4 separate regions of the Homo sapiens genome follow, and regions 2, 3 and 4 are each linked to region 1. The links come from fine-mapping of genetic effects on gene expression. A gene starts in region 1. Each other region holds a variant in brackets. All regions are shown on one strand. Distances are from middle to middle.

What was found.
Region 2: its variant is fine-mapped to the expression of GCN1 in whole blood (TOPMed, PIP above 0.99).
Region 3: its variant is fine-mapped to the expression of GCN1 in whole blood (INTERVAL, PIP 0.98).
Region 4: its variant is fine-mapped to the expression of GCN1 in unexposed skin (GTEx, PIP 0.93).

Annotation. Positions count from the first base shown.
Region 1 is chr12:120,190,823-120,198,926 of GRCh38, forward strand. It overlaps GCN1 (GCN1 activator of EIF2AK4), which reads right to left and starts at 3,893. Exons shown (of 58, transcript NM_006836.2): 1 at 3,858-3,893. The coding sequence starts at 3,875. RPLP0 (ribosomal protein lateral stalk subunit P0) reads right to left here. Exons shown (of 8, transcript NM_001002.4): 5 at 8,032-8,104; 6 at 7,732-7,917; 7 at 6,500-6,640; 8 at 5,877-6,112. The coding sequence ends at 5,951. RefSeq lists a silencer at 3,601-4,190 and enhancers at 7,374-7,873, 7,993-8,104.
Region 2 is chr12:120,164,094-120,172,197 of GRCh38, forward strand. It overlaps GCN1 (GCN1 activator of EIF2AK4), which reads right to left. Exons shown (of 58, transcript NM_006836.2): 15 at 6,076-6,228; 16 at 4,115-4,207; 17 at 553-628; 18 at 243-402. Among named protein-coding and RNA genes, the nearest start is that of MIR4498, 13 kb to the left of the region's middle. RefSeq lists an enhancer at 2,839-2,888. The variant T/C (reference allele first, on the strand shown) is at 4,266.
Region 3 is chr12:120,148,990-120,157,093 of GRCh38, forward strand. GCN1 (GCN1 activator of EIF2AK4) reads right to left here. Exons shown (of 58, transcript NM_006836.2): 27 at 7,923-8,003; 28 at 7,472-7,615; 29 at 6,603-6,730; 30 at 6,252-6,441; 31 at 5,981-6,051; 32 at 4,755-4,920; 33 at 4,224-4,418; 34 at 2,156-2,402; 35 at 933-1,054; 36 at 617-731. It overlaps MIR4498 (microRNA 4498), which reads right to left and starts at 6,510; the gene lies at 6,445-6,510. The variant C/T (reference allele first, on the strand shown) is at 4,458.
Region 4 is chr12:119,900,118-119,908,221 of GRCh38, forward strand. No RefSeq gene overlaps it. Among named protein-coding and RNA genes, the nearest start is that of CIT, 27 kb to the left of the region's middle. The variant G/A (reference allele first, on the strand shown) is at 4,313.

The DNA of each region.
Region 1 (8,104 bases):
AACTATGTTCCCTTTACATTATCTCACTTTAACCTCCCCATAAAGGGAATGTCAGCATCCTGGCAACTCACTGGCAGAGGATAAGCACACTGGCTAAAGGGGGAAAGGTTAGGAGATTGGATCCCAGCTCTGCCTTTTACTAGCTGTAGAAACTTAGTCAAATAATGTCACTCCCCCAATCTTCAGTTTTCTCATCTATAAGATGCGGACAATAGCAGCTACCTCATATGACTGTTATGGAGCTTAAATGAGATTGCGTATAAGGTGCATCTACTCTCATCCCAAGCAAAAAGTTGGCTACTACTACCAAAAAGCCTGCAAGGGAGGCATCAGTATCCCCATTTTATAGGCGATGAAGAAACCATCTCCAAGAGAGGAAGTCACTGCTCAGAGTGGGGTCGAGAGCCACAGCACCTGCGTTTTTGAAACTAACTTTGAAACCAAACAGGTCTATAAACTGATGCTAACAAATCTTTAGCTTTCAACAGCCATCGAGTTACCACAGCTGCAGTCCCCTGCATAGGGACATAAGCATAAGACCCAGTGATGGGGGGCAGTTTGCAAACATCCCTGAAAATCTGCTCTTGAGCAATATTCTACAAGCTACCAAGTGGACAGGTTGTGGATTCATAAGCCGTAGAGCAGGGCATGATAAGGCTCATGTAACTTAACACAGTGGGGTTATCATGTTTTTCTTTTGAGGGTATTTCAAAGGCAGGCCTTATCAGTAGCGTAAGAGTCAAGCGTACACACAGAAATAAAATAATGCTGAGTTTTTCGTGCTTAAATCCCTGCCATAATTCTATTGGCAATGAATAAAAGAAACTGATGTCCAAAACTGTCTTCTACATAAATAATGTAGTTTTAACTTTAAAATGTCTTTTGTTTTTATAGTCATAGATGCACACAGAGTCAAAACCAAAGAGTTCTGAGAAGTCTGCCATAAAAACCAGTCCCTTGCCCTCACTCTCCATGGGCAACCCTTAGGTTGATCTGGTGGATATTTGGGTAGTTACCTCCATATATCTAAGTATCTCTAAATATGGAGGTAACTTGCATGTGCTTCTTGATTTTTCAGTTTTGCTACCTTTCCACCACAGCTCCCTTTCCTGCTGTGACCCCATCGCACACCCTCCCCATTTCCCCAGTGGAAGTCCCCAGTTTCACATACAGGCTAGGTCAGTAGTCAGTGATTACATTATATGTAAATGGCATTCAACATCCATTTAATAAACTCTGATTCTTCCCAGCTTTTTTATGCCCCTGGTGTTAATAATTACCCTTTCCCACCTCACTTCAGTTTGACTTGTTTTATCTGTTCTTATAAATAATTAAAACCCAAACTTTTTGCCATTTGTCTAAATCTCAGTACATTTAGGGAGATCAGGTATTCCATCAAATTCCACCTTCCTAAGGAAATCTCTCCCAGAGTTTTCTGACCTGCCCCAATTAGGCATGTGATCCTCTACAGCTGGGGCACAGTTTATCACCCTGAACATGTACTTTCTTGTGTTTGGGTGAAGCACAGCCTCCATTTTGTAAACTCCTTGCAAGTATGAAAATGTTCTGGCCAAATACAGAATTCTAGGTTGAAATCATTTTCCTTTAGAATACTGAAGACAAGGCTGGGTGCAGTGGCTCACGCCTGTAATCCCAGCACTTTGGGAGGCCAAGGCAGGCAGATCACAAGGTCAGGAGATCGAGACCATCCTGGCCAACATGGTGAAACCGCGTCTCTACTAAAAATACAAAAAAAAAAATTAGCTGGGCGTGGTGCCGGGTGCCTGTAATCCCAGCTACTTGGGAGGCTGAGGCAGAAGAATCGCTTGAACCCGGGAGGCAGAGGTTGTAGTGAGCCAAGATTGTGCCACTGCACTCTAGCCTGGGCGACAGAGCGAGACTCCGTCTCGAAAAAAAAAAAAAAAGAATACTGAAGACAAGGCCGGGCATGGTGGTTCACGCCTGTAATCCCAGCACTTTGGGAGACAGAGGCGGACAGATTGCTTGAGGTCAGAAGTTCGAGACCAGCCTACCCAACATGGTGAAACCCTGTCTCTACAAAAACTAGCCGGGCATGGTGGCGCATGCCTGTAATCCCAGCTACTCGGGAAGCTGAGGCAGGAGAATTGCTTGAACCTGGGAGGCAGAGGTTGCAGTGAGTTCAGATCGTGCCATTGCACTCCAGCCTGGGCAACAAGAGAGAAACTCCGTCTCAAAAAATAAAATAAAATAATAAAAAATAATTTCAGGCCAGGTGCGGTGGCTCACGCCTGTAATCCCAGCACTTTGGGAGGCCAAGGCAGAAGGATCACCTGAGGTCAGGAATTCGAGACCAGCCTGGCCAACATGGAGAAACCCCATCTCTACTAAAAATACAAAAATTATAAAATACAGAAATATTCTCCTGCACCACCCAATACGGTAGCCACTGGCTACATGTGGCTAACTGTGCACTGAAATGTGGCTGGTACAAGTGAAGAACTAAATTTTTTTTTTTTTTGAGACAGAGTCCCACTCTTGTTGCTCAGGCTGGAGCGCAGTGGTGCGATCTCAGCTCACTGCAACCTCTGCCTCCCAGGTTCAAGCGATTCTCATGCCTCAGCCTCCTGAGTAGCTGGAATTACAGACATGCCACCATACCCGGTTAATTTTTTGCATTTTTAGTAGAGACGGGGTTTTGCCACGTTGGTCAGACTAGTCTCAAACTCCTGACCTCAACTGATCCACCCGCCTTGGCCTCCCAAAGTGCTGGGATTACAGGGTGAGCCACCACGCCCAGCCAAACAATGAATTTTTTTATTTAATTTAATTTTAACAAACTTAAGCCATGTGGCTGCCATACTGGACATTGCAGCTCTAGAGATTTTTCCCTCAAGTGAGTATCAATGTTAAACATTCAGCATGTATTCCCCTAACCCTCTCATACTAAGCTTTTCTTTCTAGTATTCAGTACAACATAACTTGAACATCAGCCACCTGCATAGGAGTCTCAGTAAATGTCTTTTTGAATGCTTAAGTGGTCATTTTCTGGGCCTACACATAAAAATCAATCCCATCACCCTGGAGACACCAAATCAGCCCAGCTGTCCTTAGACACCTGTTCTTCCCCTGCCTCATGACAATGTCTTTTCACCTTAAAACATAACAACTGGGTGGAGGAAAAGGTTTTCCCAGGTCCTTCCTGAACTACAAGGTACCCATAGGTAACACTCTTCCTGGACAGGACAGTTCTTTTCACTAACCCTGGATCTGATAACAACCAACATATATCAAGCCGTATTTTATCTCACTGAACCTTCACAACAACCTTTTAAGATAAGTATTGTTTTAACTTCATTTTATAGATGAAAAGGCAGACTTGGCGGGGTTAAGTCACTTGTTTGGCATGTCACAGAAATCGACGAGCAGGAACTCAAGCCCAGATCTGTATGAATCCAAAGACTACACTCAAAGTCCCTGCTCATAGTAGGTGCTCAAAGAATATTTGCTGAATACAAAGTTTAAGGAAGACTTGGCGTTGGCCCGGGGCTCACAGCCGGAGGGCTTTGGAGAAAAGAAGTAGAGGCTCGGTAAAGTGAACTTCTGCAACTCTGGGGTCGGGCAAAGGCCCCGCCGAGCTCCAGCTGCTGAAGTCGAGGCGGGAGCCCCGGACTCCTCGAGCCCGCGGTCTGCCTGCGCCGCCCGGGCCGGGCCAAGCCCGCAGCCCTGAGAGTCCAGCCTGAGACGGCCCCGAGACTACGACCTCCACAGCCACCACCTCCAACGCCCCTAAGCCGAGGAGCGAGAGGGGCCCCGCCCGACGGCCACCGTCCGCACCCAGTCCCTGGCCGCGTTGGCCCCGCAGCCGCCCGCCTCACCTGCGTGTCCGCCGCCATCCTGCCGGGGCTGACTCCGGAACCGCTTCCGGAACGCTTCCGGGTCACAGCGTGGCCCACGCGGCAGGGCGAGGCCGGGAGCCAGCGGGGGCAGGGCCCCGGGCTTGGTGCCCCCGGGCAGGACGGCGGCCGCTGCAGCCCGGGCAGCCGGATCACGGGCTTAAAGTTGGCCCGCGCCCGAGCCACAAGGCCTCCTCCCCAGGGCCCGCTCTTCAGCCCCGGGCGCCTCGTGGGAGACTAGCGCTTGTAACGTGGTGAGCCCGCGGTGTAACGCTATGGGCCCGCCTTGCAGCCCCTGACCCACTTCCAGCCCGCAGGGCCAGCCCTACGTGGGCCTTTCCTGAGTGATGACTAAGTTCTTTAGAAAAACAAGTGTTGCTTCCTAGATAGCAGGAACTAAAAACTAGGTAAAAGAGTCGGTGAACTAGTCTTTTGTCCTCAGTTTGTAGTTCAGTTGGCGGATGACTTGTACAGGGTTAGCAAACGTGGCTGGATACGGAGGTCAGGGAAGGTTCAGAACTGAACGAGGCCCCTGCCCTGGGGAAATGCTGGACGCCCCAGGCTGGGAGTTTTGAAGGCCACAGGGCAAGAGGCTACGTGCAGACGTGGCTGCAATTTAGGGAACAGGGTCTCCACAGCTTAGTTGTCAGCCCTGTTAGCAGTGGCTTTCAAACCTTTGACACAGACCTAGTTAGAATGAATATATCATGTTCCAGCAGACAGATCTCTAAGTGAAATACAGGAATCACAACAAAAACACCTATTCTCAGCAGATGCTGCTTTCTCTTTAAATACTGGGGCCAGGCATGGTGGCTCACGCCTGTAATCCCAGCACTTTGGGAGGCTGAGGTGGGTAGATCAACCTGATGTTAGGATTTCCAGACCAGCCTGGTCAACATGACAAAACCTTGTCTCTACTAAAAATACCAAAAAAAAAAAAAAAAAAAAAAAAGGCCGGGTGCGGTGGCTCACCCTTGTATAATTCCAGCGCTTCGGGAGGACAGGGCGGGCAGATCACAAGGTCAGGAGTTCCAGACCAGCCTGGCCAACATAGTGAAACCCCGTCTCTACTAAAAGTACAAAAATTAGCCGAGTGGTGGCACATGCCTGTAGTCCCAGCTACTGGGGAGGCTGAGGTGGGAGAACCGCTTGAACCCGAGAGGCAGAGGTTGCAGTGAGCTGAGACCATACCATTGCACTCCAGTCTGGGTGACAGGACGAGACTGTCTCAACAACAAAAAAATTAGCCCGGTGTGGTGGCAGCCTCCGGTAATTGCAGCTACTTGGGAGGCTGAGGCAGGAGAATCACTTGAACCCAGGAGGCGGAGGTTGCAGTGAGCCAAGTCCAAGCCACTGCACCCCAGTCTCAAATATATTTGAGACTATCTCGAAAATATAAATTGGTTACCACCGAGTTGGAGCACCACCCAGTTTGAAAAACTTTACTCTAGGGGACTGGCCCCAGCATCCACCAGGTGCCTATCTCAGCTGACACTAAACCTACTCCAAGTATGCAGCAGCCATAGAAACAGTAATTCTAGTGTAATAGTTACAACTGTGTCTAGAAAACTGTATAGGATGTTTGATTGGTAGCTTCATTTAGATACCCAAACATCAACACCTAAATACAAAGCTCTGGTTTTACCATGGCTTTCGTTTCTAGCATATGGCACTATAAACCTCAAAATTAAGGGCCAGGCACATGGTGGCTCAAGCCTGTAATCCTAGCACTTTGGGAGGCTGAGGCAGGATTCCTTGAGGCCAGGAATTTGAGACCAGCTTGTGCAATATCTCTACAAAAAAAAAATTTAAAAATTAGTAGCTGAGTGTCATGGTGTGTGCCTGTAGTCCCAGCTACTTGGGAGGCTGAGATACGAGGATCCCTTGATCCCAGGAGTTCAAGGGTGCAGTGAGTTATGATTACACCACCACACTCCAGCCTGGGCAACAGCCAGACCCTGTGTCAAAAAGGAAAAAAAATTACAAAATTAAGAGTCCAGAGACTTTTTAAAGAAGTAAGCCTTTATTTCCTTGTTTTGCAAATAAAACTGGCTAAGTTGGTTGCTTTTTGGTGATTAGTCAAAGAGACCAAATCCCATATCCTCGTCCGACTCCTCCGACTCTTCCTTGGCTTCAACCTTAGCTGGGGCTGCAGCAGCAGCAGGAGCAGCTGTGGTGGCAGCAGCCACAGGGGCAGCAGCCACAAAGGCAGATGGATCAGCCAAGAAGGCCTTGACCTGAAAGGAGGGGGGAAGTGGTCAAAATGGTCATCCACACTCCTCTATTACCCACCACCCTCCTGCCTTGGTAGAGTTTAAGGACCAACAATATCAAAGTCCGTGTGAAGCCTTTCCTGTCAGAAGCAGCCCAAGCAGGACAGCTTGGGTATGGCCTAGTGAGGCAGGGTTCCTAAGGCCCAGCTCTTGCCCATTAACCCCCTCTTTGGGTCTCTTGTCATTTCTCAAGTGAGAAACGCCTTCCCTGCCTCCCAACCTCTCAAATATCCCCTCACAAAATTATCTGCTATATAAAATACAACTATAAAAGCAGTAAGGTAGAAGGCCACATCACCCTGCTAATTTGTCACAGTCAGGCCCACTGTGGTCCTGGTGGGATCCTTTTACCTTTTCAGCAAGTGGGAAGGTGTAATCCGTCTCCACAGACAAGGCCAGGACTCGTTTGTACCCGTTGATGATAGAATGGGGTACTGATGCAACAGTTGGGTAGCCAATCTGCAGACAGACACTGGCAACATTGCGGACACCCTGGGGGAGGGAAGATTTCATTTTACGTGAGATTCCCTACAGGAAAGGAAGTCCAAGTAAGGGTGAATAAAGAGAACCCTTAGCAGACAATAATTGCCAGGTTGGCAGCTCAGTCTCAAGAGAGGCCATTTCATCTCATACCAAATGCTCCTGGCAGAGCAATTCAGCCCCATCAAATAAATTTTGCCCTTATTCCAAATCCAGGTCTTCTGTATCCATTGTTGATGGCATTTACTTCCAAAGCCCCTACCACAACAGTGAAAAGCATAAACGACTAACGTAGCCATTGAGTTCCATGAACGAAAAATGTTCAACGATTTCCAGATGTGAACTTCATTCACTTGTCAAACTTTCAACAAATGAAGCTACCTAAGAGTAGCTAATAATATCTAATTATATACATTAATTTCAATTTTTCATTTGTCCAAGAAATGACATTTTCTATCACTATTATTCATTATTTAAAGGGCATTATTTTTTTTGTGAGACAGAGTCTCACTCTGTCACTCAGGCCGGAGTGCAGTGGCACCATGTCAGCTCACCGCAACCTCCACCTCTTAAAAGGCTTTTGATGGCAAAATGTGAGTCTCAATGCAGGCCCTAGAATAACAGCCCCAGCACTGTACATCCATTAATTCATTAAATCCTTTGGCCAGGCGTGGTGGCTCATGCCTGTAATCCCAGCACTTTGGGAGGCCGAGTTGGGCGGATCACGAGGTCAGGAGATCGACACCATCCTGGCTAACGCGGTGAAACCTAAAAATACAAAAAAATTAGCCGGGCGTAGTGGCGGGTGCCTGTAGTCCCAGCTACTCAGGAGGCTGAGGCAGGAGAATGGTGTGAACCCGGAGGCGGAGCTTGCAGTGAGCCGGGAGATTGTGCCACTGCACTCCAGCCTGGGCGACACAGCAAGACTCTGTCTCCAAAAAAAAAAAAAAAAAATCCTTCAACAATCTTATGTTGTTACTGACATTTTACAGATGAGGTAGGTAGACAGATGAAAACACAGTCCTTGGTTACAGGGACTCAGTCTGAACCTTGTCATGCTCTCAACCATCAGTGTAAGAGGGGGCAAGGCTGACAGCATATACCTCCAGGAAGCGAGAATGCAGAGTTTCCTCTGTGATATCAAGCACTTCAGGGTTGTAGATGCTGCCATTGTCGAACACCTGCTGGATGACCAGCCCAAAGGAGAAGGGGGAGATGTTGAGCATGTTCAGCAGCGTGGCTTCGCTGGCTCCCACTTTGTCTCCAGTCTTGATCAGCTGCACATCACTCTGAACCAGATAATAGTGGGGCAGTAAACACCTGTTGGACAACCAGCAGATCCATGGCCACTAAAAGCAGCTCCCCATTTGCCTGGTTAGCACAGGCAAACCAGGTCCACTCACCAGGATTTCAATGGTGCCCCTGGAGATTTTAGTGGTGATACCTAAAGCCTGGAAAAAGGAGGTCTTCTCGGGC
Region 2 (8,104 bases), 27 kb before region 1:
ACAAAACAAAAACCCCAAAAACCCTGGAAAAAAGGTTAAGCTACATGTGAAAAAAAGTCTCTGAAAAGGAAAAGGAATCCTATGAAAGATGTTACTGGAGCTTGACGGCAGAGCAGAAGATGCTGGCATCACACAGATTAAGAAAGAACACCCAGGGAGTGGCCCAGCCAAAACCCCACATCGTAAGCAGGGGCAGCTAAGTGGATCCAAGAGCCCCAGTTCTAGAGCCCAGATGCCCTCACCTTGTGAGAACTGAGGACAGTCTTCAGCTCCTCCAAGAGTCCGTGCGCCAGCTTAAAGCCCCCAAGAGAGGACAGCAGCTTCCGAACTGTCTGCTGAGCCTGCCTGCGGACGTGCCAGGTGCGGCTCAGGAGCACCGCCACCAGAGCCCGGTGGTACTGCCTGCAAGCACAGGGACAGACAGGTCTGGGGGAAGGCCAAGAGCAGGGCTTTCCACAGCCAACCCTTCCACCTGCCACACACCCTTTCTCGGGTTCCTGCCAGCCTTTGCCTCATTTGGCCCAAAAGAAAAGGTAAGCCAGCCTCACGTACTGAACTTTGTTGCCAGTGAGTCTATGCGGGTGGTCAAGGAAAAGTCTCTCTGTCAGATGCAACACAGTACACAGGGCTTGGAGGGAAGAAAAGGAATGGAAGTGTTTTTAAAATAGTTAAGTGTACACATACATACCAATACCCAGAAATAACTGGAATGAACTGAAAATTAACACCAAAATATAAATGTGATTATCACTCGAAGTGAAATTACAGCTTGTTTTTTTTTTTTTGCTTATGCACACATGTATTTTGGAATCAGTAAAGTATATACTATTTTTATTTATTTTATATATAATATACACACATATACACATATATACACATATATATACATATACATATATACACATATATACACACACACACACACACACACACACACACACACATATATATATATATATTTTTTTTTTTGAGAGACAGTCACGCTCTGTCGCCCAGGCTGGAGTGCAGTGGCACGATCTCAGGGCTTACTGCAAGCTCCGCCTCCCAGGTTCACACCATTCTCCTGCCTCGGCCTCTCGAGTAGCTGGGACGACAGGCACCCGCTAATTTTTTTATATTTTTTAGTAGAGACTGGGTTTCACCATGTTAGCCAGGATGGTCTCGATCTCCTGGCCTCGTGATCCACCTGCCTCAGCCTCCCTAAGTGTTGGGATTACAGGCGTGAGCCACTGCACCAGGCCAAATTTTGTATTTTTAGTAGAGACGGGGTTTCACCAGGTTGGCCAGGTTGGACTTGAACTCCTGACCACAGGTGATCCACCTGCCTCGGTCTCCCAAAGTGCTAGGATTACAGGCGTGAGCCACCGCACCTAGCCTATTTTTACTTTTTTTGAGACAGAGTCTCGCTATGTTGCCCAGGCTACAGTGCAGTGGTGCAGTCTTGGCTCACTACACCCTCCGCCTCCCAGGTTCAACTAATTCTCCTGCCTCAGCCTCCTGAGTAGCTGGGATTACAGAAGCCCACCAGCAAGCCTGGCTAATTTTTTTTTTTCTATTTTTAGTAGAGACGAGGTTTCACCATGTTGGCCAGGATAATTCTGAACTCCTGACCTCAAGTGATCAGTCCACTTCAGCCTCTCAAGGTGCTAGGATTACAGGCATGAGCCACCATGCCAGGCCTATGTATTTTGTTTTCGTTGTTGTTGTTGTTGTTTTGAGACGGAGTCTTGCTCTGTCACCCAGGCTGGAATACAATGGTGCAATCTCGGCTTACTGCAACCTCCGCCTCTTGGGTTCAAGAGATTCTCCTGCCTCAGCCTCCCGAGTAGCTGGGATTACAGGCACCTGCTACCACGCCCAGCTTATTTTTGTATTTTTATTAGAGACAGGGTTTCACCATGTTGGCCAGGATAGTCTCGATCTCGACCTCATGATCTGCCCGCCTCGGCCTCCCAAAGTGCTGGGATTACAGGCGTGAGCCACCGTGTCCGGCCCCAGCCTATTTTTTTTTAATAATTAAAAATTACGGCCAGGCACAGTGGCTCACGCCTGTAATCCCAGCACTCTGGGAGGCCAAAGCAGGCAGGTCACCTGAAGTCAGGAGTTCGAGACCAGCCTGGCCAACATAGTAAAACCCCGTCTGTACTAAAAATACAAAAATTAGCCAGGTGTGGTGGTGTGCACCTGTAGTCCCAGCTACTCAAAGAGGCTGAGGCAGGAGAATTGCTTGAACCCGGGAGGTGGAGGTTGCAATGAGCAGAGATTGCACCACTGCACTCCAGCCTGGGCAACAGAGTGAGACTGTCTCAAAAAAAAAAAAAAAAAAAAATGCCTGATCCGGTGGCTCACGCATGTAATCCCAGCACTTTGGGAGGCCAAGGTGGGCGGATCATGAGGTCAGGAGACCAAGACCAGCCTGGCTAACACTGTGAAACCCCATCTCTTCTAAAAATACAAAAAATTAGCCAGGCGTGGCGGCATGCACCTGTAGTCCCAGCTACTCAGGAGGCTGAGGCAGGAGAATGGCGTGAACCCGGGAGGCGGAGCTTGCAGTGAGCTGAGATCGCGCCACTGCACTCCAGCCTGGGCGACAGAGCGAGACTCTGTCTCAAAAAAAAAAAAAAAAAATTACTAAGGCCAGGCACGATGGCTCATGTCTGTAACACCAACACTTTTGGAGGCTGAGGCAGGAGAATTGCTTAAGCCCAGGAGTTCAAGGTCAGCCTGGGCAACATGGTGAAACCCCCGTCTCTTAAAAAAAAATACAAAAATTAGCCAGATGTGGTGGTGTGCACCTGTAGTCCCAGCTACTCAGGAAGCTGAGGTGGGAGGACCACCTGAGACCAGGGAGGTCGAGGCTGCAGTGAGCCATGACTGTGTCACTGCACTCCAGCCTGGGCAACAGAGTGAGATCCTGTCTCAACAACAACAACAACAACAAATTACTATGGAGTTATAAAAAGAGGCCGGGCATGGTGGCTCATGCCTGTAATCCCAGCACTTTGGGAGGCCGAGGCAGGTGGATCACCTGAGGTCGGGAGTTCGAGACCAGCCTGACCAACATGGAGAAACCCCATCTCTACTAAGAAAAAAAAAAACAAAAACAAAATTAGCCTGGTGGTAGTGGCACATGCCTGTAATCCCAGCTACTCAGGAGGCTGAGGCAAGAGAACCGCTTGAACCCAGGGGGAGAGGTTGCGGTGGGCTGAGATCATGCCACTGCACTCCAGCCTGAGCAATAAGAACGAAACTCCATCTCAAAAAAAAAAAAAAAAAAAAGAATGATGAAGTTCATTATATACTGATATGGACTCATTTCCAGGTCTAGAAAGCACAGTACATACGGCAGGCACACTACCATTTGTGTAAAAAAGGTACAGAACAAACATATACAGGTATTTACTTGCATATATATAAAATATCAAGGCTACAGAAGAAGCTAATAAAATTGGTTATCTATAGCCGAGGAACTGGGTAGCCAGAGATCAAAGCAGGGGTATAATTTTCAATGTAGACCCTCTTGTATCTATTTTTGAATTACATTAGTCTATTTCCTTTTCAAAATTTAGCTAAAAATTTTTCTAAAACCAGGAAATGACTAACAGTTGTAGCTCATTAATGGGATGTTGCGATTTATGAGTCAAACGACTCTTCAAATCACCAATTAGTGGCAGACACTCCTAAGGCAACGTAGAATATTAAACACATATTTAAAATTCAACTGTTCCTTTTCTGCCAGGATAGAAACCAGTAGTTTTTGTGTCTCTTGGTGGGGGAGTAGAGCCTGCCAGACTCCACAAGAGCTTCTCAGCTGCCTTAACACAAGAAAACCTCCGAGACAGCACCAATTACCCAATCAGCTATAATTACAGCTCATGTCGTAGCTCCACAGCCATTACTGCTCTGTCTCCACACATCTCCCAAGTCCCATTTCCCTAACCTTATGTTCCCTACAGGAATGAATTTATTCCCACAACAGCTAAGCTGTTGGCCAGATCACTCTGGCCCAGGTTTTTGCAGACCTGACTGGTTGGTCAAGAAAGGGTCCTCTCTGAAGATTTTCCAAAGAGACTTTGCCTCAATCCCGAGTTCAACTAAGCATGGAGTAACTTACCATCCTCTGAAGCCATGACCAGGAATTTCTCAGAAGTGAAAACCTGCTTTTTCTCATCCACAATCAACTGCCAGAAACTGCTCAGTTTGGCCTCTGCAAGAAACAAAAGGTTACCCCACGACGCAGCTCACCACATCCCCCAGAGCTGATC[T/C]ACTCCATCCTGAAGCTGCTGGGGTGGGCTTTGCTGACAAACCCTCCTCTGCAGCAGGAGGCTCAGTGCTCTTCCATTTGGGGAACTGACCTCAGTCCTTCTGGTATCACCTCCTGTACGAAACTCTTCGGTGGCTCTCTGCTGCCTACAGGATCCTAGGTGAACTGCTTCTCATCCGGAATTCCCATCCACCCCAGGCGCCAAGCTGGAATACCTGAGGTTTACAGACTCTGGCTTTCCCTGCCCTTCCCTGACTGGGGCTGTTTGGACTCACACTGGGCCATCCCTTCAGGATAATGAAATCCTTCAGAGGCTTCAGGGTACCAGTTCAAATGCTTCCTCCATGAAGCCCTTCCCAATACCCACCCCCCCAACTAAAAGCAATCTCTCCTTCAAAACTGCTCTAATGCCGCATTTTGTCTTAAGCTACGGATATATTTCTGTATTTCCTCGCGCCTACTGTGAAGTAAGCACCCTGAAATTTGCTGAAGAAGGTCATGTTCATCTTAGCATTCCCCCAGGTAGCCCAGTGCCTTGCATGGCCACAGTGAGCACACGATATTACATGAGGAGAGCTGAGCTCCATTCCTAACCAAAGGAGTTAAGTTCAGGTGTGTCCCAGTGCAGAGATTGGGAGATGAAATAAAGAAAGCCTGGCCGGGCGCAGTGGCTCACGCCTGTAATCCCAGCACATTGGGAGGCTGAGGTGGGTGGATCACAAGGTGAGGAGATTGAGACCATCCTGGCTAACACGATGAAACCCTGTCTCTACTAAAAATATAAAAAATTAGCCGCGCGTGGCGGCGTAGCGCCTGTAGTCCCAGCCACTCGGAAGGCTGAGGCAGGAGGCGGAGCTTGCAGTGAGTCGAGATCGCGCCACTGCACTCCAGCCTGGGCGACAGAGCGAAACTCCGTCTCAAAAAAAAAAAAAAAAAAAGAAAAAAAAAAAAGAAAAGAAAGCCTGAAATACGATGTAGCCACAAAAAATAATGAGAAAGCTCTTTCTGATGTACTGATTTGGAATCATTTCGAAGATATATTATATATAGTATATATATTATATATTATAAGTAATATGGCATATAGCGTATGTTCCCCAGCATGTTCAATTACATAACACACTATGTCTGGACATAAAATTGGTAATACTGTTTTTTCTTTCTTAGACAAAGTCTCACTGTGCCACCCAGGCTGGAGTGCAGTGGAGCAATCCCAGCTCACTGCAACCTACGCCTCCTGGGTTCAAGCGATTCTCCTGCCTCAGCCTCCCGAGTAGCTGAGATTACAGGCATGCGCCACCACACCCAGCTAATTTTTGTACTTTTAGTAAAGACGGGGTTTCACCATGTTGGCCAGAATGGTCTCGAAATCTTGACTTCGTGATCCGCCTGCCTCGGCCTCCCAAAGTGCAAAATTGGTAACACCGTTTACAGAGGGAAACTTAACGGCTACGGGAAAAGACAGGGCTAAGGGGAAGCTTCTCATGTTATATCCTTTTGAATTTTGTACTGTATGAATGTATAACCAACTGAAACAAACAGTCCCAATACTAAACCCTGGTCCATCTAGGTATCATCTACAAGCCTGTGTAGCACTGGAGCAACAGAATGAAGGAGGACAGTGACACAGTCCCCTGACTGCATTCCCACTGCCCATGCAACCATGAGGTTCATCCTGCAGATGACAAGCAAACCTGTGGCTGATCCAGTGTGGTCAGGACCAAGCTAATCCTGAACATCAAGACACACCTCCCAAGGACTCTTGTCAGAGGCCCCTGTCTCTACCATCCTAGACACCTCTGGACTCATACCAGCCTGTGAGTCAGCCACTGACAACTTTAAGAGCAACAAGGCTGCGGCAACCCCTTCAGTGATGGTGGGAACCTGAGTGCTTTGGGAGGCTGCCTTCTCCACTGTCTGGATGAGCAAGGGCAGTAAGTCCAGGGCCTGCAACAGCGTGTCACCTGTGGAGAGAGGACAAGCACCTTAAAGGACATCCTGATCCTTGGAAATGACAGGACTGAGAAAGGATTTATCTAACCAGCTGTGAACCAGACGACTAAAACCCTTCAGTTAATTTTTCAAATATCTCAAAAAGAAGTGAAGTGAAATCAAAACTTAAATCAAACTCTACAGCCACAAAATTAGAGGGAGAAAGATAATCCTTATGGCCAGGTGCGGTAGCTCACGTCTGTAATCCCAGCACTTTGGGAGGCCGAGGCGGGTGGATCACCTGAGGCTGGGAGTTCGAGATCAGCCTGACCAACATGGAGAAACCCCGTCTCTATTAAAAATACAAAATTAGCTGGGCGTGGTCCAGTTATTCAATTGATGGATAAGCAGAGACATTAGGTGTGTTGCTCAAGGTCACACGGCTAGTTGAGGCAAGTCAGAGCCACCCTCAATCCTGTCAATTCCCATCTGGTACTCTTCCCCCATACAGATGACCTTCGGACCCAAATTCTAAATTTGGGTCCAAATCTGCTGACCTCTGAACTAAACTCTTTTAAAAAAAAAAGGAAGCCAAGCACAGTGGCTCATGCCTGTAATCCCAGCACTTTGGCAGGCTGAGGCGGGGGGGATCATGAGGTCAGGAATTCCAGACCAGCCTGACCAATATGGTGAAACCCTGTCTTAGCCGGGTGGGGTGGTGCACGCCTGTAATCCCAGCTACTCAGGAGGCTGCAGCAGGAGAATCGCTTGAACCCAGGAGGCGGAGGTTGCAGTGAGCCGAGATTGTGCCATTGCACTCCAGCCTGGGTGACAGAACGAGACCCCATCTCCAAAAAAAAAAAAAAAAAGAGAAACCAGTTAAAACTATAGTTTGGCTGGGCACGGTGGCTCATGCCTATAATCCCAACACTCTGGGAGGCTGAGGCGAGCAGATCACCCGAGGTCAGGAGTTCAAGACCAGCCTGGCCAACATGGCAAAACCCTGTCTCTATTAAAAAATACAAAAATTAGCCAGGCATGGTGGTGGGCATCTGTAATCCCAGCTACTCAGGAGGCTGAGGTTGGAGAATCGCTTAAACCCAGGAGGCGGAGGTTTCAGTGAGCTGAGATCGCACCACTACACTACAGCCTGGGTGACAGAGAGAAACTCCATCTCAAAAAAAAAACTATAGCTCAAGCACATGTTTTCTTCCCCCCTACCCCAACACCTTGGTTTGTTGTTCCATGTTTCCATAGCTACTAAATGGGTACATCAGAACATTTCACAATGAAAGCAGTTTCCCAGATAATGTTTTATACTTGAATCCAAGAAATCTTTATTACAGAGGTTTATTTTCGTTTTGTTTTTAAAAGGTTTATTTTATATTATGTTTATTTTAAAAGCAATGAGCATTGAGTTCTGGCACTCTGCATTCCTTTTTTAAAAAATAAATTAAAAATAAATGCAACGAGCAGAACTAGCTCAAGCTGAAGAGACTAGGTAAAACCAAGTTTTTGCCATCTACAATTCAAAGTCCCACCTACAACTGATGGTCATTCAATGCAGCAATAATGCAAACTGATATATATAGTACATAGACTTTTTATATAATTTTTGGTAGAGACAGAGTCTTGCTATGTTTCCCTGCCTGATCTTGAACTCCTGGGCTCAAGCAATCCCGCTGCCTCAGCCACCTGTGTAGCTGGGACCACAGGCATGTACCACCATGCCCAGCTATTTTTTTAATTTTTTTGTAGAGATGGGGGTCTCACTTTGTTGCCCAGGCTGGTCTCAAACTCCTGGGCTCAAGCAATCCTCCCACCTCAGCCTCCCAAAGTGTTGGGATTACAGGCGTGAGCCAGCTCGCCTGCCTCATAGACTGTTTTTAAGTCATGGATGTGAGTTCA
Region 3 (8,104 bases), 42 kb before region 1:
TTTTTTTTTTTGGTAGAGGTAGGGTCTTGCTATATTGCCCAGGCTGGTCTAAATTCCTGCCCTCAAGAGATTCTCCTGCCTAAGGTTATTTTCAAAAAGAGCTTTCCTGGGGGGGGAAAACTTTAAAGCCAAAGAGGAGCTTTAGAGCTTTAGGATATCCTGACTTAGGGTTGTGGCTCTTGTCAGAGACCTGTTTCTTGGCATGAAAGCACATAAACTATAGAAAGATCCAACTGCCAGAGGGAGAGCTGGCCAGGCGTGGTGACTCACACCTGCAATCCCAGTGCTTTGGGAGGCCAAGGCAGGAGGGTCACTTGAACCCAGGAATTCAAGGCCAGTCTGGGCAACATAGCGAGACTCCATCATTACAAAAAAAAATACAAAAATTAGCCAGGTGTAGTGGCATGCTCCTGTGAGAATGGTTTGAGCCCCAAAGGTAAAGACCAGCCTGGGTGATAGAGCAAGACTCCATCTCAAATTTTTAAAAAGGCAGAGTCTTAACCCTATCCCTGGTCTGGGGAGCTCACAGGACAAGAGCTGTGGCTACCCAGGATCCTTGCTGAGGCTGGTTTTCATAACAGGAAGCTGGGAAGAGAGGCAGAGCGAGTGGTCTTACCAGCTTTGGTCCGCCACGATTCCTCCTCCAGGGCAGCCAGTAAGGAGGGGAGCACCAGCTTCACCCCGTGAGCACTCAAGTTGCTCATCACAGCCTTGGCACAGTCATCTGCAGCCTCAAGGGGGGAGAAAACACATTCAGGGGCCTCCTCACCCAAGCAAGGGGCAAGGCCTGACACCAGTCCTAGCGTTCCTCCTATAACCAACGCTTACTGGGGTTCTATTATGTCAGACCCTGTGCCAAGGCCTGCAGACACAGCTGGGAACACATCTCATAAAGTTTCCATGCTGTTCTCCCGAGCAGTCCGGGGACTTACCTCACGCACATACTGGTTTCCATCCCCAAAGCACAGGAGCAGATGGGGCAGCACGTGAACCACATACGGCTCAAAAAGTTTCCCCAGCATGGTGCAGAGCATCTCGAAGGCAAAGAGGGCTCCTAGGGGAAAAGAAGGTGGGACGGCTGGGAAGAGAATGTCCCCTGGGGGTAGCCACAGAGAACAGAAGGGACAGCAACCTCCCTGCCACCTCCCACCCCTCTGGAAACACTCAGAAACAGCTGTGGAACTAGTAGATGCCCCATGAGGAGGCAGCACCCTCTGCCTCAGCTCAAGAAGCCCCAGCAAAGGAATGTGGCTGAGCGAAAGGGAGGACAGCACAGGGGAGCCACCTTCACTTCTTGGCACTAACAGTTAAAAAAGCCAAACCTTGGCCGGGCGCGGTGGCTCACACCCATAATCCCAACACTTTGGGAGGCTGAGGCAGGCAGATCACGAGGTCAGGAAATAGAGACCATCTTGGCCAACATGGTGAAACCCTGTCTCTACTAAAAATACAAAAATTAGCTGGGTATGGTGGTGGGCACCTGTAACCCCAGCTACTAGGGTGGCTGAGGTAGGAGAATTGCTTGAACCCAGGAGGTGAAGATTGCAGTGAGCCGAGATTGTGCCTGGAGACAGAGTGGGACTCCATCTCAAAAAAAAAAGAAAGAAAGAAAGAAAGAAAAGCCAAACCTCTCTCAGCTAAGGGTGTTGCTGAGTTAGAAATTTGTGGCCGGGCGCGGTGGTTCATGCCTGTAATCCCAGCACTTTGGGAGGCTGAGGCGGACAGATCACGAGGTCAGGAGATCGAGACCATCCTGGCTAACACGGTGAAACCCCGCCTCTACTAAAAATACAAAAAATTAGCCGGGCGTGGTGGCGGGCGCCTGTGGTCCCAGCTACTTGGGAGGCTAAGGCAGGAGAATGGCATGAACCCAGGAGGCTGAGCTTGCAGTGAGCCAAGATCACGCCACTGCACTCTAGCCTGGGCGACAGAGCGAGACTCCGTCTCAAAAAAAAAAAACAGAAAAGAAAAAAAAATTTGCAAGTCCAAGGAAAGCAGCAAGGACGCAGCTGGACTGGGTCGCACACAGCGGGGCCCTCTGTAGTACACGCACAAGCAACGGCCTCCACCTGGGGCGCCACGGTCAGATTCCTTCCTCTGGCAACCTGGGGACCAACTTCCCATGCTGGGCAGCCCCAAGCTCAGAGATGCTCACCCTCTCGCCGGCGGAAGTTCTTCTTATCTTGGATGGCATCAGTCAGTGCCGCCATCATCTCCTGTTGCTTCAGCGAGAGGATGCCCAGGCCCTTCACCAGGCCCGCCAGGCCATAGGCGGCCCCTTTGCGCTCTGCGTACTTGTCTGACTCCAGCAGCTGCTGCATAAGCCTCTGGATCATCCCTCCAGCATCCTCCTTGATGGCTGGCACAAGGGGTGGCAAGCAGCTGGCTACGGACTCCTGGACCTGGGGAAGGGCCCACCTGTCAATGCTGTGGCTCCGCTGCAGCCGTTTCATGGTTGGTGGGGGGTCTGACCATTCTACACAGCACCCACCACTAGATGTCCCAAGCCCCATCTCAGCCACTGCCTGCGGATGTCACAGGGCACCAGAGAAGCAAACAGGTATACACAGTGTTGTATACCTCTGAGGGTGCACACTACAATCTGCTGACGACAAAAGCTTTGGCCCATATGGTGCCATTTCTGGTCTAAATGGAAAACCTAGGCCTGGGCAGTGGGGCAGGGGACCAAGGAAGGGACTCTAAAGACTAAATCCACTCAGAAAGAAAGCTTCCAGAGAAGTGTGCTGCTTTGCCTCCATAAAAACAGCCCGTGTCTCTGTTTCCAAACTTGTCAAAATCACAGAGAAATTGGGCAGGGCCTTATAGGACCAGGCACAAATTGAGTGGAACCAAAAGACACTCAATCCTGCCTCCCAGCCGCAGCTCACTAAGCCCAGCTTGGGAGCAGCAACCCCGAGGCCATGCTGGCAGGTGCCCAGGTGCGACTCTTTTGCTGCTTAGGCTTTCTGACACCATATTTGACCACAATTTTGGAAACTGGTTTTCAACTGTGCATTTTTTTGGTAAAGTTTTTTGTTGTTTTTTGTTTTTGTTTTTAGAAATAGGGTCTTACTCTGTCACCCAGGCTACAGTGCAGTGGCACAATCATAATTCACTATAACCTTGAATTCCTGGACTCAAGCAATCCTATTGCCTCGGTCTCCTGAGTAGCTAGGAACACAGGCATGGCCTCCACCTCTGGCTAATTTTTAAAGTTTTTGTAGAGACAGGATCTCACTATGTTGCCCAGGCTGGTCTCGAACTACTGGCCTTAAGCAATCCTCCCACCTCAGCCTCCTAAAGCACTGGGATTATAGGCATGAGCCACCACGCCCAGCCCAACTGTTCACTTTATGAAGACACTCTAAGTGGTCCAAAATGCAAACCACACACACACGCGCACACACACACACACACACACAAAATATATATATATAAATATATATATATTTATATATATATACATGCGTGTTTTTCAAAACAAAGAAAAAGAAATTTATTTGCACTGTAGCTTAGAGGCTACATTAAAACGCACCTGTAGCCTCCTAAAGCACTGGGATTATAGGCATGAGCCACCACGCCCAGCCCAACTGTTCACTTTATGAAGACACTCTAAGTGGTCCAAAATGCAAACCACACACACACGCGCACACACACACACACACACACAAAATATATATATATAAATATATATATATTTATATATACATACATGCGTGTTTTTCAAAACAAAGAAAAAGAAATTTATTTGCACTGTAGCTTAGAGGCTACATTAAAACGCACCTGTAACACACAACCAACACATGTAGAGGGCCAGAAAAAGGCTTGACATAAGAGAAAGCCTGACCTTTTATTTTTTTTCCCTTTGGATTCCCAGTGCACGTTAGTGAATAGAAAAAATGGAACTATCTAGGAGGTCTATTAGAACAAAGTAACAAAGAAACTCCCTCTCCAGGGGCATTCTTCACTATAAACCAGGTGAGTAGAAAAAAATGAAACTATCTGGGAGGTCTACTAGAACAAAGTAACAAAGAAACTCCCTCTCCAGGAGTGTTCCTGACTATAAACCAGGCTCTCCCCTGCGAGAGGGGGTGAATCCTTAACAAGAACTGGGCTTTCAGGGCCCTGATTGTCCAACTCCACCCCTAGTATCCCACCGCCTAACCACAGCCGGGTCCCAATTCTCTAACCGACATGTGGGTCCCAGGCCAGATGGCAGGTACCTGCTGGGAGGGGGTGGAGAGGGCAGCGATGAGCTTGGCAACAATGGGCTTCACTTTGGGGTCACTCTTGTCCAGGTGCTTGGCCAGAGAGCCCATCAGGACCACCACACTCTGTCGCACAGCATCATAGCTGGCATCATTGGGCGCGTTCTTCAGGAACTCCTCGAATACTGGCAACAGCGAGTTGACGTTCTCCTGGAAAGCCAAACCCCTCAGAGCCTCAGGTCAACCCTA[C/T]AGGCTGCATCTGGGGACAACAGTCCCTGCCCTGAGGACCAAGACCAAGTCTAGCTCTGGGACAGGCATCCTGACATGCCAGCCAGTGGCTCTTCCAGTTTTCTGGCAGGACTGCCACAGACTTAAAAGAATTTAACACACTATCATGGTCTTTTTGGCTCAAAGTGCTCTGCCAGGACTCTTGGCACTCAGCATTTCTGGCCCCTGCTCAGCCCTAGCGCCTGCCTCCCGTGTCTCCTTAGCGGGCTGGGACCCCCTTACCTTCCCGTGGGTGTTCCCTGGCTGGGACCCCCTTACCTTCCCATGAGTGTTGAGCGTTGCGAGGGCTGCATCCAACATGCACTTCCGGACATCTGGGTGTCGGTCATTGAGGGCATCAGGGACAAAAAACTGAAAGAGTGGCTTCACCTGAGAGCTGTCCAAATACTGGGAGAGCTTGTTGAGGGCCAACGCCAAGCCACACCTGGGAAAGAAGTGGGAGCACATCAGGAGGGGCAGTCAGGGGGCCTCCTCTGCCAGTGGAACCTCTGCTGGTGCACGGCAAGGAGAGGGAGCTTGCCTGAGGCAAACACTGTTTTGGGGGCAGAGAACAGCCTGAAGCCCACCACCCAGTGCTCACCCAATGTTCTGGAACAACCCACTTGTCATATGGAGACTTGCCATCTGCCCTGATTTTACCTCCTACTGGGTGACCAGCCCTGTGTTGGTTTCCCCAGAGAGGAATGTGAGTGCAATGCTCACCCCTCTACCTGCAAAGCAGGTTGTAAGAGAACACAGAGGTAAAAGAACCAGATGTAGAGGCCTGTGGAAGTGAACACATTCTCCAAGGGCAAAGTGTTGTTACTCTTTCCAGTCATGGAGCAAAGAATCTGTGTCCTATCCCTGGCTGATGGTCTGGAATGAAAAATAAGCCAGGATGGGCCCATACACCACCCTACACTGACACACAAGGCCTCACGGGAGTGGACACGGCCAGGATGAGCCATTCAGAGAACTAACACCCTTGCGTGTTTTGAGCCTGCTCTGTGGGAGGCAAGTGTCTTTCAATGTCCCAGTTGCTCCCAGACATCTGTCTAATCCTCCAACTGCTACTCATGGGCTCTGTGGAGAAAGGCTGGTAGCTTCTGTTATTGTGCCCTGCATATAGATGAGGAAACAGAGGCCTGGGGAAAAGGAGAAACACGCTCACGGTCACGCAGCTAGTGCAGGAGAGGACACTCTAAGGAACTTACTTAGAGTTCATTTTAATTGATTTAACTTTAGCCACATGCGGTTAGTGGCTACATCTTGGACAGTACAGCCTAGAGAGAGGTGAGGAGGCAGGTCAGAGGCTCTTCTGAAAGATGGTGCCTCACACGGTCCAATCCCACCCCTTCCAGGGGCTGATGGAACTCAGGCCTCCCCGACTCTGAGGGAGGTCCTGCTCTTTCATTAACCCATGCTGCCTCCTCACAGCACCCACCCAGCCAACCTGCCACATCTCACAAAGCTTGGAGTAGAACGAGGCTGAACAATTGTTATACCTGGCTTCCCACTGATCTGGAGGAGATTCTGAAATAACTCGTCCCAAAGCATCCAGCACTGGGGGCGGCCGCTGCAACAGACAAGTTGGTAAATGCTTTGCAACGGGCAGATCAATGACCTGGGCACCAGGATTGTGAGGCAGGAAACTAGCCGCAGCTACCCTGAGCCACCGTGAGCCCCGAGATTCCTGTCTGGAGCAGTAGCGGGGTGAGCAGAGACCCACCCAACCGCACACACCCAGACTGCATCAGGGCTGCACAGGTCACTCACGTAGAGCTTTTCCTGGTAAATCTCCATGAGCCTGCCCATAACCTCCGCCGCCTGCCGCTGGTAACGTGCCACTGCTTGGGAGAGGGCTTCGGCCCCTGCCTGCCTTACAGCCGCCTCATGATAGATCACGTCGTCAATCAGCAAGGAGCAGAGGTCTGGCTGCAGGTCTAGGCCCATCATTGACCAGAGCCTGTGGGAGATCCAAGGCAGGGGCTGCTTAGACAAAGATCTGCAGCACTTGCCCTGCCAGCCCAGCCCTTCTTCCCACTGGAGGCTGAGCACACTGGGTTCAGTTATTTCCTAAAGGAAGAGAGGATGCAGCAGGAGAAAGCGACATGCTGGCTCTCTCACCTCTCAGCCAGCTTCCGGATCTCCTCCTCCTTGTCAAACTTGACCACCCAGAGTCTCCGCAGAAGGTTCAGGCCATTCTTCTCATCAGTATCAGGTGCTGGCAATACCATGTGGAGTTCCATCAGCCCCTGGAAGGGGTGGGATTGGACCGTGTGAGGCATCATCTTTCAGAAGAGCCTCTGACCTGCCTCCTCACCTCTCTCTAGGTTGTACTGTCCAAGATGTAGCCACTAACCGCATGTGGCTAAAGTTAAATCAATTAAAATTAACTCTAAGTAAGTTCCTTAGAGTGTGAGGTGGTAAAATGTTTTTTTAATGTGAAAATTAAAACGTTAAATAAACCAGACAGATAAAAACCTCAGAAAAAGCGTATTCCTTTTGTTCAAAAAAATTTTAAGGAAAAATTTACTATATTGTCATCATTTTCACATTTTACCAAAAGCCAGTGAAAACTCTGTCACATATCAATAGCAGGAGGCTGTGGATCAGCAGGTAGGAACCACTGTCTTACCACTACAAGGGGATGCTTCAGTTTTTGGTCCAAAAGCCATGAAGAAAAACCAAGTACATGGCAGTGGGCTAAAGAATTGAACTCCTCCTGCAAGTTAGCTCTGTCCGTGGAAGTACCAAGGTCCACATTCCAGTTTAAAAATTAAGTGAAGTGTTCCAAGGTAAAGGAAAAAATACAGTGATACATCATGACTGCTTAGTGTTCTGATTCTCAGAGAGACCCCAACCATGTGACTTCTTCTCTTTGCCTCTAGGCCTCCCACCAGAGTGAGGGACATTCTCTCAAATGCCCATCATGCAATTTGCACTTGCATAGAGTGACAAGGGACACTGCAGTGGCTCTGAGACTGAGCACACACCCGGAGCACGGTTTCCCGCACGCTGGCACACGGGGACTGCAAGGCACAGAGCAGCACGTCCACCTCCTCCTGCTCTGCAAAGGCACAGCCATCATCACCACTGCTGCTGGCACACAGGGTGGTCAGGGTGTCTGAAGCCAGAACCTAAGGAGAACATCAATCCACTGGTTCAGTCAGCAACTCATTTACTACTAGGGGGCCAGAGAGGGATATGCACTGAGAACACCCACCCCTACAGCACTGCAAGGGCTAAGACCCCAGCTCCAGTGGCAGGACCCAAGCAAAACCCCTCACTAGCTAACAACAGTCAGGCTGGCTCTCTAAAGCAGTCTTTCTACCAAAGTCCAAAAGTAAGGGCTGAAAGGAAACTAGGACTCCACCCTTTACACTGGGACTTGAGGTCTGGGTCACGAACTGAGTCACAGCAACAGCCAACTGAAAACCACATCACCTGTAAGCGAGGCGAGCCCGTCCCGATCACCCAAGTCAGAAGACGCAGCATGGCCACGCGAGGCAGCAACTCCGGGCCATTCTAGGAGAGAACGGCAGGTAAGTCGAGATGAGGCTGTGGGGAGGTCTGTAACCCAGGCGGCCAACGGCAGGGCATCCTCTCACCCACGGGGGAACATTCTG
Region 4 (8,104 bases), 290 kb before region 1:
CTGGCTAACTTTTGTTTTTTGTTTGTTTGTTTTGTTTGTTTGTTTGTTTTGAGACGGAGTCTCTCTCTGTCGCCCAGGCTGGAGTGCAGTGGCACGATCTTGGCTCACTGCAAGCTCCGCCTCCCAGGTTCACGCCCATTCTCCTGCCTCAGCCTCCTGAGTAGCTGGGACTACAGGTGCCGGCCTAATTTTTTGTGTTTTTAGTAGAGACGGGGTTTCACCATGTTAGCCAGGATAGTCTCGATCTCCTGACCTCGTGATCCACCCGCCTCAGCCTCCCAAAGTGCTGGGATTACAGGCGTGAGCCACCGCGCCGGGCCTGTATTTTTTTTTTCAGTAGAGACGGAGTTTCACCATGTTGGCCAGCTATTTATTTATTTTTATTGTGGTAAAATATACACAGCATAATTTTTTCATTTAACTATTCTTTATTTTTTTACTTTTATTTTTGAGACGGAGTCTCGCTCTGTCACCCAGGCTGGAGTGCAGTGGCGCGACCTCGGCTCACTGCAACCTCCGCCTCCCGGGTTCAAGCGATTCTCCTGCCTCAGCCTCCCGAGTGGCTGGGATTACAGGCCGGCGCCACCACACCCAGCTAATTTTTGTATTTTTTGTATAGACATTAGTTTTGCCAGGCTGGTCTGGAACTCTGACTTCAGATGATCTGCCAGCCTCGGCCTCCCAAAGTGCTGGGATTACAGGCGTGAGCCACTGTGCCTGGCCTATTTAACTATTCTTTAGCATACAGTTCAGTAGCATTAAGTACATTCATAACGTGCAATGAATCATGATCACTGCCTATTTTCAGAACTTTGTCATCATCCCAAACAAACTCTGTACCTATTAAACTACATCTTTTCATTTTCCCTCGGCAACATCCGTTCTGCTTTCTGTTTTTTTGTTGTTGTTGTTGTTGTTTTTGTTTGTTTTTTAAACTGAGTCTCCCTCTCACTCTGTCACCCAGGATGGAGTGCAATGTCACAATCTTGGCTCACTGCAACCTGTAACTCCTGGGTTCAAGTGATTCTCCTGCCTCAGCCTCCCAAGTAGCTGGGATTATAGGCGTGCACCAGCACCCCTGGCTAATTTTTGTATTTTTAGTAGAGACAGGGTTTCACCATGTTGGCCAGGCTGGTCTCGAACTCCTGACCTCAAGTGATCTGCCCGCCTCGGCCTCCCAAAGTGCTGAGATTACAGTCGTGAGCCACCGCACCCAGCCTCTGCTTTCTTAACCTCTATTCTACTTTCTGTATCTATGAATTTGCCCATTTTAGGCACCTCATATAAGTGGAATGATATCATACAGCAGCCCTTCGTGCCTGGCTGATTTCGCTTAGCATGTTTTCAAGGTTCATCCATGTTGTAACATGTATTAGGACTTCATTCCATGTATGACTGAATAATATTCCATTGCATGTATATGCCACATGTTGTTTATCCATTCATCTGTTCATAAACACGTGGGTTGCTTCTGTTTTCTGAAAGAATGTTGGTGTACAAATATCTGAGTCCCTGCTTTCCATTCTTTGGGGTATATTTACATACGTAGGAGTGGATCATACGTCACTTCTGTTTCCTTTTTGAAGAACCACCAAACTGTTTCTCAAAGTGGCTGCACCATTTGAAATTCCCACCACTAACGAATCAGGGCTTCAAATTCTCCACACTCTAACCAACACTTAAATTATTTTCCATTTTATATATATATAAAACAATAAATATAAATAATATATAATATAATTACATTATATAATAATATATTATAAATTATATATTTTATATATTATAAATAATATATATTTTTCCATTTAATATCTATATTATATTATATATAATAGCCATCCTAATAGGGATGAAGTGGCATTTCATTGTGTCTTTTTAATTTCCTTGTTTAGCAATGTAAATTTTTCCTATGGAATGTAAGCAATTTTCTAGATCACATTCATTCCACACTACCTAATGAGCACCTGTACTTCTCTTCCAAATAGCCTTTTTAGAGTCCTGCCCTGGAAATTACTTCCGTTAGTTGCTTCCTTATCTTTAAACCATCTAAAGCACCATTGCTTGGTTTAGCATTTTACCTCCTCGAAGCAGAAGCGCTATCTAGTGGCCCAATAGAGTAGCTGCAGGGGCAGCCCCCATTTTCACTAGTGCCTGTCTTAGTAACAAGGTCCTTGATATGCTTTATCTGGTGCTGCTGATCTGGCAGTGCCATGAAAGTCGACATCCAAGTCTGACTCAGAGAGGGATGTCTCTACAAAGATGAGATAGATGGGCTTTCGCCCCAAATGACAATGTCTTCTCTGGTCTTAATTGCACCATTCCTAAAACAGGGATGATAGAAATACAGTTGACATTGTAAAAGCAACTGGTTAAATATTATGTCCAAAAAAACCCCCAATTTATTATTTTTCCAGTCTCTTCCTTCAACCATTCTCTATGGAACCTTCCTTTTCCACCCTTAAGAGACATCCCTAGCAAACGCTGTGGCTTTCATGTCCTCAACTTTCCCAAAGTGCCCCCACCCCACCCCCTTTATTTGAGATACGATCTTGCTCTGTTGCCCAAGTTGGAATGCAGCAGTGTGATCACAGCTCACTGCAGCCTCGACCTCCCAAAGCTCAAACAATTCTCTCCTCTCAGCCTCCCGAGTAGCTGGGACTACAGGCACACGCCACCACTCCTAGCTAATTTTTAAATATTTTTTGTAGAGGTGGGATCTCCCTTTGTTATCCAGGCTGATCTAGAACTCCTGGGTTCAAGCGATCCTCCTGCCTTGGCCTCCCAAAGTGCTGGGATTACAGGCATGAGCCATTGCCCCAGCCCCAAAGGCTCTGATAGTGTGTCTGATGCATCATCTCCTACTCCCCTCCCCGATAAGCCCAGCTTTGGAGTGGGGGGAAAGAATGATCTGTGGGGAGTGGTCTGCTCTCACATGCTTGCCCCACCCTCCTTCGTTCAAAGCTCCTCTGATGCTTGGGGCAGAGACTAGAAATAAAGGAAAAGGGCCACACCTTGTACAATTTTCTGACATAGGAAATGGACTCTTGCTTGGACTTTTCCAATTACCCTTCTCTCAGCTAAGCTCCAGGGAGTCCACTTAATTCATTCTTGTCCCACCCAACATCAGGAGTTCAAGCTTTCTCATTTCGCCTCCTCTCTCTGTCTCTCTACCCCTGTACCCCAACCATCTGCCTCCCGTTTTTCTCCCTTTCCTCAGAGATTACACGTATAAGAAAAAGGAGTATCACTCTTAGAAAAGGAGATCACAGCCCGGGAAGGCTGAGGCAGGAGGATTGCCTGAGTCCAGGAGTTGGAGACCAGCCTGTGCAACAAAGTGAGACCATCTACCCGACCCCACCTTCTCTACAAAAAAATTAAGAATTAGCCAGGTGGGGTGGCGTGCACTTGTAGACCAGGCATTCCAAATGATAGCCCAATATAAGATGAATGCACATACACACAAAATCAATAGCTTTCCATTACACTAGTAACAACCATTGAGCTAATGTTAAAGAGAAATTATTCTCCTCCAGTAACAACAAACTATCCAGTTCCTAGAAATCAACACAATAAGAAAAGGGCAAGGGGTTCATAAAGAAAACCGCAAAGCTTGACTACAGACTTACAAACAAGGCCTGAGTAAGAAAAGACAGGGATGATCTGTTCCTAAATAAGAAGTGCCAATGTTGTAAGATTCCTTTTCTTCCCAATTTAACATAAAAAGGAAAAGCAGAATAAATAAATGGTGGTGTATCCATACAGTGCAGTTCTACTCAACATTAAGAAGGTATGTGCGGCCAGGCACGGTGGCTCATGCCTGTAATCCTAGCACTTTGGGAGGCCAAGGCAGGCGGATCACCCGAGATTAGGAGTTCGAGACCAGCCTGGCCAACATGGTGAAGCCCCATCTCTACTAAAAATACAAAAATTAGCTGGGCGTGGTGGTGCACGCCTGTAATCCTAGCTACTCAGGAGGCTGAGGCAGAAGAATCACATAAACCCTGGAGGTGCAGATTGCAGTGAGCTAAGATCGTGCCACTGTACTCCAGCCTGGGTGACAGAGTGAGACTCTGTCTCAAAAAAAAAAAAAAAAAAAGAAGGTATGTACTATTGATACAAACAATACAATAAATGAAAATAAGTGAATCTCAAAACCATTAGGCTGAGTGAAAGAAGCCAGATTCAGAAGAGAGCACAAAACCGAAGGCAGTGGCTCATGCTTGTAATCCCACCACTTTGGGAGGCCAAGGCAGGAGGATTGCTTGAGCCCAGGAGTTTGAGACTAGCATGGGCAATATTGTGAGACCCC[G/A]TATCTACAAAAAATAAAATAAAAATTAGCTGGGCATGGTGGCATGCACTTGTAGTCCCAGCTACTCGGGAGGCTGAGATAGGAGGATCCCTTGGGCCTGGGAGGTTGAGGTTGCAGTAAGCTATGATCACACCACTGCACTCCAGCCTGAGTACCAAAGTGAGACTCTGTCTCAAAAAAACAACAGCAACAAACAACAAAAGAATACATGCTGTATGATTGCATTTATATAAAATTCTAGAGAGGGGAAAAAATGACGGCAGCTAGAGTTGGGGATGAAGGTAAGGATTAATTGCAAAAGGATCTCCAGGGGTCTAACAAGAATGTTCTATAGCTTAATTGCATTGGCGGTGACATGGCGTATACATTTGTCAAAACTCATCTAAATATAGCCCTAAAATGGTGCATTTTATTGTATGTAAATTATGGCTCAATAAAGTGGGAAAAAATAAAATGTAATTCAAATTGAAATGTGGGCAGGCATAGTTGCTCATGCCTGTAATCCCAGCACTTTGGGAGGCTGAGGTGGGCAGATCACCTGGGGTCAGGAGTTCGAGACCAGCCTGACCAACATGCAGAAACCCCATCTCTACTAAAAAATACAAAAATTACTTGGGCATGGTAGCTCATGCCTGTAGTCCCAGCTACTCAGGAGGTGGAGGCATGAGAATCGCTTGAACCCGGGAGCTGGAGGTTGCAGTGAGCCAAGATCGTACCACTGCACTCCAGCCTGGGCAACAGAGTGAGACACTATCTCAATTAAAAAAAAAAAAAATGGCCAGGCTCAGTGGCTCAAGCCTGTAATCCCAGCACTTAGGGAGGCCCAGGCGGGCAGATCACGAGGTCAGGAGTTCAAGACCAGCCTGACCAACATGATGAAACCCCGTCTCTGCTACAAATACAAAAATTAGCCAGGCATGGTGGCGTGTGCGTACAATCCCAGCTATGCAGGAGGCTGAGGCAGGAGAATTGCTTGAAGGAGGCAGAGGGTGCAGTGAGCTGAGATCATGCCACTGCACTCCAGCCTGGGTGACAGAGCGAGACTCCATCTCAAAAAAAAAAAAAAAAGAAAAGAAAAGAAAAAATTGAAATGCAATTCAAAAAAAAAATTCCAGGCTGGACGTGGTGGCTCATGTCTGTAATCCTAGCACTTTGGGAGGCCAAGGTGGGTGGATCACTTTAGGTCAGGAGTTCATGGCCAGCCTGGCCAACATGAAGAAACCCTATCTCTGCTAAAAAATACAAAAACTAGCCAGGTGTGGTGGTCCGTGCCTGTAGTCCAAGCTACTTGGGTGGCTGAGGTGGGAGAATCACTTGAGCCTGAGAGGCAGAGAGAGTGAACGGAGATAGCACCATTGCACTCCAACCTGGGCAATAGAGCAAGATTCTGTCTCAAAAACAAAAATAAAAAGAATTCCAACTTCAGGGTTTCAGGGAGAGGTATGGCAGAGACATGAGAACTGAAAATGAAATTCTTCAGGAAGAATAAATGCATGAGAACAGACAAGAAAAACACCGTGAGCCCAGAGAGTCCATCGACAATTCTGCAGCCCAAGTAGGCAGCCACTCTGGCCACCCTAGGAATGAGATGCCTTTGGTTCTCGCTTCTGCCAGGTGCCCTCCAACTCAAAGAACAGCTTCTAGCTCACGCTTGTAATCCCAGCACTTTGGGAGGCTGAGGAGAGTGGATGACCTGAGGTCAGGAGTTCGAGACCAGCCTGGCCAACATGGTGAAACCTCATCTCTACTAAAAATACAAAATTAGCCGGGCATGGTGGCTCACTCTTGTAATCCCAGCTACTCAGGAGGCTGAGGTGGGAGAATCACTTGAACCCCGGTGGCAGAGGTTGCAGTGAACCAAGATCACGCCACTGCACCCTAGCCTGCGTGACAGAGTGAGACCCTGTCTCAAAAAAACAAAAACAAAAACAGAAAAAAAAAAAGTAAAAAAAACATACATCCCTAAGTTGTTTTTCAAAAACCCAGACCCCTACCAAATGGCATCCAGGGGCGCACAGACCTCAGATGAGGGGAGACTGATGACCGACCTCTGACCACCATTCTTTGTTCTAAATTTGTTCCTGAAGGGCCTGGAGGAAGCCAGGAGCTAACGTTCTTTTCTGCTGACCCCAAATTTTTAAACAAAGCTTCTCTTCCTTAACCAACTGCAAATCAGAAAATCTTTGAATCCACCTATAACCTGGGGGCCCCACTTCAAGGTATCCTGCCTTTTTAGGCCAAAAACCAAGGTGTACCCTCCATGTATTGATTTACAATTTTGCCTATAACTCTGCTTTCTTAAAATTTACCCCTGCTTTTAAAAACCATCAGGGAGGTCAGGACGTAAGCATTAGCTGCCCAATTCTCCTTGCTTGGCACCCTGCATATAAATACCTTCCCTTCTCCTGCTGCAAACCTCCATGTGGATATCTGGCCTTACCGTGCCAGGCGAGCAGAACTCAGTTCGGTTTAACACCTTCCCTCCCCCAATACACAGGCTGGGATGCAGGATGGGATAGAGTGAGGCTGTGGATAGCGAAGTAGTTTGGTTACTTTTTTTTTTTTCTGAGACTAAGTCTCACTCTGTAGCCCAGGCTGGTGTGCAATGGCTCAATCTTGGCTCACTGTAACCTCCACCTCCTGGGTTCAAGCGATTCTCCTGCCTAGCATCTCAAGTAGCTGGGATTACAGGTGCATGCCACCACACCCAGCTAATTTTTTTGTATTTTTAGAAGAGACGGGGTTTCGCCATGTTGGCCAGGCTGGTCTTGAACTCCTGACCTCAAGTGATCTGCCCGCCTCGGCCTCCCAAAATGCTAGAATTATAGGCATGAGCCACCATGCCCAGCCTATTTGGTTACTTCTTAATAGAAGAGGGGACTCCAGTTATTTTCTTCTTTCTTTGGACCATGGAGTCCATGAAGCTTTTTTATCAGCTTTTGAGCCCTGGCTGCCTCCTCCAGAGTTGTTCTGTGACAAAAGGCAAGAAAAAGGATCAAACTCCTTTGGCATGCACCTTATATCATGGAGGTCTTCAAGAATATATTATTTCATGGCATAAAAACATGGACCAGCTGCAGTGGCTCACACCTGTAATCCCAGTGCTTTGGGGGGCCCAGGCGGGAGGATCACTTGAGCCAGGGAGTTTGAGACCACCTTGAGCAACACAGCAAGACCCTATCTCTACAAAAAAAAAAAAAAAATTTTTTTAATTAGCTAGGCCTAGTGGTACACACCTGTAGTCTAAGGTATTCATGAGGCTGAGTCAGGAGGATCGCATGCGCATGAACCCAGGAGTTTAAGGCTGCAGTGAGCTATGATCATGCCACTGCACTCCAGCCTGGGTGACACAGCGAGACCTTGTCTGTAAAACAAAAACAAAGTTAAATAGGCCAGGCATGGTGGTTCATGCCTGTGATCTCAGCACTTTGGGAGGCCAAGGCAGGTCAATCACCTGAGGTCAGGAGTTCGAGAACAGCCTGGCCAACGTGGTGAAACCCCATCTCTACCAAAAATACAAAAATTTGCCGGGCATGCTGGTGGGTGTCTGTAATCCCAGCTACTCGGGGAGCTGAGGCAGGAGAATCGCTTGAACCTTGGAGGGGGAGGTTGCAGTGAGCCGAGATCGCACCACTGCACTCCAGCCTGGGCAACAGGGTGAGATCCTGTCTCAAAAAAAAAAAGGCAAAATAAATTCTAAAAATTTAAAAGCAGAAATGTGTGAACCTTAGATGGTAGGGCAGATTCTAGCACATGCTAAACAGGAAATAACAGAACAGCAATGAATCGATT